Linked DNA regions of Homo sapiens. The protein of the gene in region 1 purifies or fractionates together with the protein of each later gene. This does not show direct contact. Each region holds a gene or a part of one and is shown in the gene's direction. Other genes may lie near its edges. The genes, in order: SLA2, MACIR and TARBP1.

Evidence for each region.
Region 2: the proteins of SLA2 (region 1) and MACIR purify together in Homo sapiens (affinity purification with mass spectrometry; one large-scale study listed by BioGRID and IntAct). This does not show direct contact.
Region 3: the proteins of SLA2 (region 1) and TARBP1 purify together in Homo sapiens (affinity purification with mass spectrometry; one large-scale study listed by BioGRID and IntAct). This does not show direct contact.

The regions. Positions count from the first base shown.
Region 1 is NC_000020.11:36,629,067-36,632,718, reverse strand, and holds part of SLA2 (src-like-adapter 2), read left to right. Parts: intron 1-20; coding exon 21-124; intron 125-3,652. UniProt on the Homo sapiens protein: Adapter protein, which negatively regulates T-cell receptor (TCR) signaling. Inhibits T-cell antigen-receptor induced activation of nuclear factor of activated T-cells.
Region 2 is NC_000005.10:103,275,710-103,279,259, forward strand, and holds the end of MACIR (macrophage immunometabolism regulator), read left to right. Parts: intron 1-187; 5' UTR 188-210; coding exon 211-831; 3' UTR 832-2,951; downstream 2,952-3,550. UniProt on the Homo sapiens protein: Regulates the macrophage function, by enhancing the resolution of inflammation and wound repair functions mediated by M2 macrophages. The regulation of macrophage function is, due at least in part, to its ability to inhibit glycolysis.
Region 3 is NC_000001.11:234,476,957-234,480,708, reverse strand, and holds the start of TARBP1 (tRNA (guanosine(18)-2'-O)-methyltransferase TARBP1), read left to right. Parts: upstream 1-1,529; 5' UTR 1,530-1,605; coding exon 1,606-2,536; intron 2,537-3,752.

The DNA.
Region 1 (3,652 bases):
CCTCTCTTTCGCTCCGCCAGGTGGCTGTATGAGGGCCTGAGCAGGGAGAAAGCAGAGGAACTGCTGTTGTTACCTGGGAACCCTGGAGGGGCCTTCCTCATCCGGGAGAGCCAGACCAGGAGAGGTGAGTAAGCTCGGTGCCAGCCCAGGCCCTCCCTACGTGGAGGTCTCAGAAAGGAGCCCACAGATATATGGCTGCAGGTGCGGCCCAGAAAATAGGCTTTGCCTGACTTCTCAGTCAACCAAGATTTCCTGAGCCCCAGCTCCGTGTCCTGCCCATATGAACCATGTGGAGCCCAGGCTGGGGGAGATGGAGACAGGCCATGAAAGCAGAGGAGAGGCAGCTAACTTTGGAGCAATCAAGGGAGGCTTCATGGAGGAATAGACCATGAGTGGACCTGGAGGAGTGGACCTGGGATCCTGAGGGATGTTCCCACAGGATCCCAGGCAACAAGACACAGTGGTGCTGGGGTGGGCCAGTGGGCTGCACCTCGGGACAATAGGAGGTTAGAAGTGAGCAAGCTCCAGCACAGAGGCCTTGGATGCCGAGCTGAGAAGCTTTGGTTTTCTCCCAAGGCAGTGGGGTTGCTACTCAGCAGAGACACAGTGCTGGGCGTGTGTTTTGGGGGAAACGAGAGGATGCATTACAGGGACTCTCTGAGTGTGTTCTGTGGGCCACCTGCTTAGAAGTAGAGGAGATGGGGGGTCAGTTTAGGGGACCCCGAAAATCGTATCCTTCTCTGAGAGGTTCACAATCCGTGTTAACACAAGACTTCTTAAGGCGTCGCGTTTGCCTAACTGGGCATTTCCCAAGTGTTTCTGACACAGGAGTGTTTCATCATGCAGCACCAGTCAGAGTCACTCCATGTTCATTCATTCAGCAAATGCTTCTCCAGCACCTATGATGTGGGGAGGCTTCAGGGAAGGACAGGACCTACTGTATGTGTCAGGCCTTAGGCATCTCTGCTGAGTGAGGTGGCCATGGTCCCTGCTCTCAGGGAGCTCCTGGGTCACTGGAAGCCAGTGTTCCATGGCACAGAGTTTGGGAAACATACCTCTATTTGAGATCCACAGTGATGCCAGGGCTTGCCCCTCCAATGCCAAGAGCCAAGTGTGATATGACTTGAGGGTGGGGCAGAAGGCCAAATGTGAAGGGCTGGAGTTCCTAGCCTTGGTGTCTAGCAGTCTGGCTGTCATCTGCCATGTTGCTGCCATGAGAGCCTATCAGCAATAGAGCAAAAATCTGCATTTCTAAAAATAATACAGGCCGGGCACTGTGGCTCACACCTGTAATCCCAGCACTTTGGGAGGCTGAGGTGGGAGAATCACTTGTGCCCAGAAATTTGAGACCAGCCTAGCCAACATAATGAGACCACTTCTCTACAAAAAAATTTAAAATGTAGTGAGGCATGGTGGTGCATCCCTGTAGTCCGAGCTACTTCGGAGGCTGAAGTGGGAGGATCACTTAAGTCCAGGAGTTCCAGGGTGCAGTGAGCCATGATTGCACCACTGCACTCCAGCCTGGGCAACAGAGCCAGACTCCATTTCAAAAAATAAAAGTGAATGTGAATGGCCCACAGTAGGGATCTAGGCTCAGCCAACACATTGGCAACTAGGATTTTTAATAGAGTATAGTCACAGAATTTCTCTGCGTTGACTAGGAGGTGATTCCTCCTTCCCCAAGACACAACATGATTCTGATCTCTTGGCAAAACATTAAAATGGTGACAGGATCTCTTGGGTCAGTAGCCAGTCAGAGCTAGAAACCCACTGGAAGTCATCTCATGGATCCTCCTCGCTCCACTGTACAGACTGAAAAACTGGACCAAAGAGGAGTAGGAACGGGCCACATGCACATTCATGTGGGGCTTCTCCCACCCCAGGTGCAGGGTCTTTTGCAATCAAAACACAAAGTTGATTGTCTCTTTGATGACCCTGCCTCCCTCTGAGCTGCTGCCCCTGAGTCCTTTAAGGCAGAGGCAAAGAGGGATGTTGAAGGAGCAGCAGCCCCCACGTTTATGTTAAGCCCTTTAAGTGACTTAAAACAATGTATGGGGATTGTACTTCCATTGTCTTCATTTTACAGATGGAAAAACTGAGGCTTAGGGAAGAGAAATAATTTGCCTGGGGAAACACAGCTAGTAAGTGCAGAGCCAGGATTCAAACCCAGCCACACCTCCTCTCACTCCAGGCCCCCAAGAAAGGCCCACGTGGGGCAGTAATGTTGGCACTGCAAGCATAGCAACAGACCAGGGAAGGAGGTATCAGGAATGGACAGACCTCCTGGCGCCCGCCTTGATATGAACCAACTGTGATAGGCTGTCGGGACCCTTCGTTCTCTGCCTCAGTCTCCCTCCCAGGACCCTTTCCAGCTTCTTTGTCTCTCCTCTCCTGCCCTTGGGCGTTCTTGGGTTGACCTCTCTGAGGCCCCTCCTGCTATTTTCTAGGCAGCATCAGCACCCCCACCTCACATACATCCATAGGCTGGTAGAGGGGCTGGGGAGGCCAGCCCAGCACAGCAGCTGCAAACAGGAAACCACAGCAGCGTTGCGGAGTGGAGCAGGGCCCCACTGCAGACTGTCCCCTGGAGCTTCAGAAGCCACAGGAAGTGCTCAGTGCTCAGCTCCCCTCCCCTGGCCCATTCTCTGGCCTGGGTCAGCCCCAAGAATATAGTGGCTGGCCCTTATGGCCACTCTGCCCCTTACCTAAAAAGACACAGATGCAAAGAGAAAACTCTGTGAGTGAGAAGAGAAAGCCGTATGGAGACTTTTTTTTTTTTTTTGAGACAGAGTCTCACTGTGTCGCCCAGGCTGGCGTGAAGTGGCACATTTTGGCTCAGTGCAGCCTCTGCCTCCTGGGTTCAAGTGATTGTCATGCCTCAGCCTCCCTGGTAGCTGGGATTACAGGCGAGTGCTACCACACCGGGATAATTATTATACTTTTTTGAGACAGAGTCTCACTCTGTTGCCTATGCTGGAGTGCAGTGGTGCGATCTCGGTTCACTGCAACCTCCACGTCCTGGGTTCAAGCGAGTCTCCTGCTTCAACCTCCTGAGTAGCTGGGATGACAGGCACATGCCACCATGCCCAACTAATTTTTGTGTTTTTAGTAGAGACAGGGTTTCATCATGTTGGCCAGGCTGATCTCAAACTCCTGACCTCAGATGATCCACCCACCTCGGCCTCCCAAAGTGCTGGGATTACAGGAGTAAGGCACTGCACCGGACTATTTTTTTTTTTTTGTATTTTTAGTAGAAACGGGGTTTTGCCATGTTGGCCAGGCTGGTCTCAAACTCCTGACCCTCAGATAATCCGCCCACCTTGGCCTCCCAAAGTGCTAGGATACAGGCATGAGCCACCGCGCCCAGCGGGATCCATGAAGATCTTTAAAGACTCATAAGATCCACATAAGGCCTCACCTGAGGTCAGGAGTTTGAGACCAGCTTGGCCAACATGGCGAAACCCCATCTGTACTAAAAATACAAAAAAATTAGCCGGGCATGGTGGCAGGTGCCTGTAATCCCAGCTACTCAGGAGGCTAAGGCTAGAGAATTGCTTGAACCTGGAGGTGGAGGTTGCAGTGAGACGAGATCGCACCACTGCACTCCAGCCTGGGTGACAAAGCGAGACTATGTCTCAAAAAAAAAAAAAAA
Region 2 (3,550 bases), on another chromosome or scaffold:
AGGCAGAGAGGTATTGTCATTTCATGCCCGCTCTGAAACGTTTAGTAGACATAGTTACATGTCAGTGGTACATTGACTGTCTTTCAGGCAAGTGTTACTTCATGCTCCCTGAGCCTTCTAAAAGGACCTGGCCTGGCCCAAGTCTCTGTGCATTATATTCTTCTAATCTAAGTCTGTTTACTTTTAGGATTGTGCAGACTGGTGCTTAAAATGGAAGTCGATATTAATGGAGAGTCTAGAAGTACCCTGACCACCTTGCCCTTCCCTGGGGCTGAGGCCAACTCCCCGGGAAAGGCGGAGGCAGAGAAGCCCCGCTGCTCCAGCACACCCTGCTCCCCGATGCGGAGGACCGTGTCAGGCTACCAGATCCTACACATGGACTCTAACTATTTGGTTGGCTTCACGACTGGCGAGGAACTCCTGAAGTTAGCTCAGAAGTGCACAGGAGGTGAAGAGAGCAAAGCAGAAGCCATGCCATCCTTACGCTCCAAACAGCTAGATGCAGGACTTGCCCGTTCCTCTCGTTTGTATAAAACCAGAAGTAGGTACTACCAGCCATACGAGATTCCAGCTGTCAATGGCAGGAGGCGAAGGCGGATGCCAAGCTCAGGAGACAAGTGCACTAAATCTTTACCTTATGAACCTTACAAGGCCCTCCATGGGCCTCTGCCTCTTTGTCTTCTTAAAGGTAAGAGGGCTCACTCCAAATCTCTGGACTACCTCAATCTAGATAAAATGATCAAGGAGCCAGCTGATACAGAAGTGCTACAGTACCAGCTTCAACACCTAACCCTCCGAGGGGACCGTGTGTTTGCTAGGAATAATACATGAATGACTTGGAGAGAGCTTAAACCAATTTAGGTCAGCCTACGCTTGGCTAGAAAAAACCCACTGCTGTACTCTGTACATGACTCTTCACACTATAGATGGTTATATCAGCTAAGTGTTCCTGGAACATAAAAATTGTTTGGGTCAAATTTGAATACAGGAATGAAATCACAGGTACTTGGGGGGGGGATATCATTCTAGAGCACGCAACTGCAAAGAAAACAGAATGTTGACTGTTAGTTTGTATAGCTTTTTAGCTAGGAAAAAAAGGCTTTGGTACAGTAATTTCATCTTTATGATTCTGACACTCAAATTGGGAATGTTACCTGCTTGGTTGTTGCTGACTTGATATGATTCATTAGAAATTTATATCTTCAGTACTCAAGTACTTCTTGAATCTCTGTATTTTACTATAAAATGTATGTAATGATTTGTTTTATGAAATTTAGAACTTGAACATTGCTGAATTGGACCACTTTTTATTTTTAAATATTGAGTTTAAATATTTTATAACTGGTTTTGCACTGAAAAAATTAACATTTCAGATTGACAAGAGAGTAATCTTTCTTCACTTGCCTCAATAATGTTATTGAGCAATGAATTTTTTATTTCCGCATGGAAAGTTATTGATCTCTATGGCTGTAAAATATTTCTTTATAGCGTTATTAAAGTGTGTCTTAATAAAATTAAATTTGGGATACAAAGTATTTATTTTACAATGGGTGGGCGGGGGAAACTTTTCCAGAAAGTTTCCAATATGACGTTTTCATAAGTTGAAAAAACTCTCCTTAGTGCTTATTTTCTAACTTAAAATTCACCTGGAACTTTAAATGGGAAAGGATTCTTTTAATTGTGGATTATAGGCATAATACTGTTTGCATCTGAATTTTCTGTAAGTGAATAATAGTTTAATAGAGGAACTCATGATTTGTACTATTGAATGATTAAACTAAGTATGAAGTGATACCATTCAGCATGGCATCAGGTCATTGCAGTTTTAGTTCTGTGTAACACAAGCACTCACTGAAATTCCAGTTTCTAGGATTAGTGTAGGAGCCTAACGTGCTTCTACTGTTTTAATGGGTTAATCCTGGATTACTTAACAATTTATGTCAATTGCACTGGTTTAATTTGTTGCTAAAGAAATAATGCCCTGGGTTTAGTAACAAATACAGCTCAACTATTCTTGAATATATTTTGAAAAAAAAATGTATGTAACTTACCTTTTGTAAACGTTCCATTTCTTTTTTCCCTCATTTTTGACTCTTAAAGGTGCAATTTATTACTGAATTGGGATTTCTGGCAGCACAGAACTGCTTTTTATTTTGGGGTCTGTGAGTTTCTTAGGTATTAGCAATCTTGCTTATAAAATAAGAACACCTTTTAATTAATGAGTGGGTCATTCCTGGTGCAATTGTGATTTTTCTTTAGCCAGAATGAATGGCAAACTCTATTTAGAGCAAAGTAAGTATTAGAAAACCCTAGGAACTCTTAATCAACGTTTATTACACTTTCATTAAGGCAAACTACGTGAAAGAGCCTTGGGGAAGTTGGCCCATATCTTACTAAGTTGATCAGATTTCTCGTTGGGCTGGAAATGTTTCGCTGTTGTATATTTTAAAGTAAATTGCACCTTTGTAACATATTGTATTGACGAATGATCACTAAGATTAGCTATATCTATACAGTCATTAGTTTGACAAGAAATAGAATCCTGTCAGATGCCAAAGAGTGGGATTTTTATGTTTAATGATTAAACACCATTATTTATTGACAATTTACCCTGTGGAACTGTATTATTTCTAACTATGAAATAAAGGGGTGATGTAAACACACATTGTTGTGTGGTGCTTTAAACTAGGTCCACTATCAACAGGCTACTTACTGTTCAAGAATTCCACTGAAGCACTTATTTTAAGGCCCTATTTTTCTTAAACAAAACAGTGACAACAACAATCAAACCATTTACTTTTGATGCTCATTGGCATTTTATGATAAAAGATGTATTCATGGCAATGATATGTATTCACCCTATTAGGAAACACAACTGGTTACCTATGAGACCTGTTCTGTCCGTGTGCCTACGTTCCTTAATAATAGCTAAATAAAAATTTGTAGCTTTTTTTGTTTTGTTTTGTTTTTTCCTGAAAGACAGGTGAAACTCTGTGGCAAAAATAGGGGGGTTAATAGTATAAGATATGGCATACTTACTCTTTTTTGATTAGTAAAGATATATAATTTTAAATTTGGTTTTCTAGAAAGAAAGTTTCAAAACTCTAGGCCAGTAATTTTCACAATGTGTTTGCAGAACCCCTTTATTAGTTCAGTCTTACTTTCTCTGCACCCCATGGAATTGTAGCCTATGGTAGGTAAGAACCAATTTTTTTAAAAAAAGGGTAGGCTGGATCTCTTTTAGTTGAAAAACAATCCCTTTTGACATGGTTTCTATTTTTTAACTTTTTCATTTTTTATTCAATTTAATATTCCACACTAAATGGGGCACACTTGGCCAGAATATACCTGATGATATTATCTTACTGTTCTTGCCCTTAAACATTGCAGCACTATATAACTTTAATTTTTTTCTTCTTTTGCAAAAGTACCGTTTGTTTGAAGCTCAGATGATGCATAAAGTTGCAGTAAAATTTCATTCCTTGCCTCAATCTGAGGTGAGCTTCTTTTGCTCTTCTGACTTCCATTTGGTTGCATTTTACACCTCTGG
Region 3 (3,752 bases), on another chromosome or scaffold:
TTTAATTTGCATTTCTCTGATGACTAATGATGTTGAACACTTTTCCAAGTGCTTATCATTTGTGTATCTTCGTTTGTTAAGTGCTCAAGACATTTACCCATTTATATTTGTTAGATATATGTTGACAGAAACAATAGTTTTCTGCACATTTTATGTTGAAGGTAATTGATATTTACTGACATGTTAAAAGGGCTTAAAATAGAAACATTTATGCATTTTGTCAATGAAAAACGGAATGACTGAAATATGAAAAAAGTCTTGCCTGTGTAATGTCAGATAACCTTAAAGTCAGATAACTTTATATAAAAATAACTGTAAATTTAAATAACTAATTTTTGTCTTATCCATTATGTTATTATATGTCAAGCTCTTTGAAGTTGGGACCCTGTTTTCTCTATTGACTAAGAGGCAGATCTTTGTGTTTAGTAGCGAAGAAAACCCTATGTCACTGATCTAGTTTGTCTCAAATTGAGCCAGGAACCAAATCCACACCATGCATGCCGAGGTGAGGTTTTCTGTTTCTCTATTTAGCAATGGATGCTGTCAGAAATACAGAAAAGACAGACACAGGGACTATTTTTGAGTTTGCACATGGGAGCACATGCATTGTGCAGGAGGCTCTGCATCCTGGAGTCATCTTGGGCACTTGGCTGTGAGGGCTGGCGTGGGCATCTTGGTTTTAGCTGAATCCTAGCACATTGCTATAGGTACCTCTAAGGCAGGAGAATAGGGCCTGGAGGCAGGGAATCCAAAAACTCCCTAGAACCAAATCAGATAGAAACACTTCAGCTATGACAGGAAATATCCTCTTCATTTACATAGGGAGTACACCAAGTAAATAACTTTGTAACTTCATTTTATCCTCTTCAGTTACATAGTGTGTACACCAAGTAACCAATTGAAACCTCTATAGGTATTTAAACCCCAGAAAATTCTGTAACCAGCCCCCCTTGAGCGGCTTGCTTGGGTCTGCCCCCACCCTGTGGAGTGTACTTTTGCAATAAATCTCTGCTTTTGTGGCTTCATTCTGTCTTTGCTTTGTTTGTGCGCTTTGTCCAATTCTTGGACCTGGACACCCTCCACCGGTAACACTTCTCACTCCTGGCCTTACGTCTAAATCATTCTTGTGTTTTCATGACTTATTTTTAATGCAGATGTCCAGAACCAATTTCAGACCTACTGTGTCAGTCTCTTTGTGGATGGTGCCCATCATGCAACGTTTGGAAAATAATCTAAAGTGATTCTGCTGTGCACCTTCTGTGAACTGGTTTATGCTCACAGGCACGCCTGATTTAGGGTCCTGGGCAGACCAACCTCCAATCAGGAATCGATGAAGCTGGTGTAGATACTACATTAACTTTTAACGAAGGCCTCGTTTCTCCTAAAAATAAGAGACCAGGTGGGTTCTATCTAGGCAGGGTTGGTGGCAGGAACCCAAGGGAAGCTGAGCTGCACCAAGCCGGGCTGGGATCCCCCTCTCTGCGGCCGCGCGCCCGGCTCCGTCGGCGCACGCGCACGTAGGGGCCGGCCGGTCCTGTGCGCACGCATCGCACACGCCGGCGCCTTCCTTTGGGAGCCCGGGCCGGTGGCGCGGGCGCTCGGCAAATGGAGTGGGTGCTCGCGGAAGCGCTGCTCTCGCAGAGCCGGGACCCCCGGGCCCTGCTTGGGGCGCTGTGCCAAGGGGAGGCATCCGCGGAGCGCGTGGAGACGCTGCGCTTCCTTCTGCAGCGGCTCGAGGACGAGGAGGCGCGCGGCAGCGGGGGCGCAGGCGCGCTCCCGGAGGCGGCGCGCGAGGTGGCTGCAGGGTACCTCGTGCCACTGCTGCGGAGCCTGCGCGGACGCCCCGCGGGCGGCCCGGACCCCAGTCTGCAGCCTCGCCACCGCCGGCGCGTGCTGAGGGCGGCGGGCGCGGCCCTGCGCTCGTGCGTCCGCCTGGCCGGGCGTCCGCAGCTGGCGGCCGCGCTGGCTGAGGAGGCGCTGCGCGATCTGCTCGCCGGGTGGCGCGCGCCTGGCGCCGAGGCTGCCGTGGAAGTGCTAGCAGCCGTCGGGCCATGTTTGCGGCCCCGCGAGGACGGGCCGCTACTGGAGCGCGTGGCGGGGACCGCCGTCGCCCTGGCGCTGGGCGGGGGCGGGGACGGGGATGAGGCCGGGCCTGCCGAGGACGCGGCGGCGCTGGTGGCCGGGCGACTGCTGCCAGTGCTGGTCCAATGTGGCGGGGCGGCGCTGCGGGCCGTGTGGGGCGGGCTGGCCGCGCCTGGGGCGTCCCTGGGGTCCGGCCGCGTAGAGGAGAAGCTGCTGGTCCTGAGCGCCCTGGCCGAGAAGCTGTTGCCCGAGCCCGGCGGCGACCGCGCCCGCGGCGCGCGCGAGGCGGGCCCGGACGCCCGGCGCTGCTGGCGCTTCTGGAGGACGGTGCAGGCGGGGCTGGGCCAGGCGGACGCCCTGACGCGCAAGCGAGCGCGCTACCTGCTGCAGAGGGCGGTGGAGGTGTCGGCGGAGCTGGGGGCCGACTGCACCTGCGGGCCCCAGGAAGGAAACGGTACCTGCCTCTTTGCCCCCCAGCCTAGTGCTACCTACTTGGCTGCCCCAGAGGGGAGTCTTCCTGCTTCTAAAAACTAGCTTATCGGGGTCGTCACTCCGATCCATGCAGAATTTGGTTATTCCGCGTTGCTCCCCTAAAGCCTGAAAACCTTTGGAACCCCTTCTCGAGGGTGTTCTTTGAAGTCACAAATCACTGCGGTTGGGAACGTTCTAACCCAGAGCCGGTGGAATACAGCACCCCTGGAATAGTTTAGGAAGATAATGGAGCCCGTGCAAGATTTTACAGACCCAAATCTGCACTATATCATGGTAGATTCAACCCAATAGAAACGGTTGATATCTATCAAGTTGAAAGAAAAATTATTTGTTATTTATCTGTACTGACCAGTGAATTAGTGAATTGAGTGTTGAGTGTTAGAATTAAGCGTCATAGAGGCCATCACACTCTTCTGAAATTTCCCCTGGTAATTAGGAACAGGATTTACTAATATTTGTTAAACATGTTTCTTAAGTCGACCTTTTGAGTGTATTTTTGCCATTGATTTAATAGAATGAATCAGATTTTATTTTTTAACTGTTTGAGCTTTGCTCCCTACTATGTGCAAGAGTAATGAAACAGCAAGGCCTCCCTTCAAGTTGTTACGTTACTGTTGATTGGTTTGACTTCACTCATGTTAAATTTGGGTTTAAACTGTCAAGTACAAAGTAGATTGACTCAAAATTGTCTCAATAGAATATTTCTACTTTTTCAACGGTAGCTGACCATTTATTACAGGTAAAGGATTTTTGTTTGGCTGAAGTTATGAGGTTATATTTTCAAGTAATTTTAAAACATTAGAGAGTAAATATTTGAACAGTCCACAGATAGGTGTGATCATCCCTGAGAGTTTTCACTGGAAAACATTTTTTAAATCATCAAAAATTAAAACATTCATTTATTTACATGAGTCTGTTATTTTGCAGTTTTGTTTGTTTGTTTGTTTGTTTTATGGAGTTTCGGTCTTGTTGCCCAGGCTGGAATGCAATGGCACAATCTCCGCTCACCGCAACCTGCACTTCCCGGGTTCAAGCGGTTCTCCTGCCTCAGCCTCCAGAGTAGCTGGGATTACAGGCATGCGCCACCATGCCCCACTAATTTTGTATTTTTAATAGAGACGGGGTTTCACCGTGTTGGTCAGGCTGGCCTCAAACTCCTCACCTCAGGTGATCTGCCC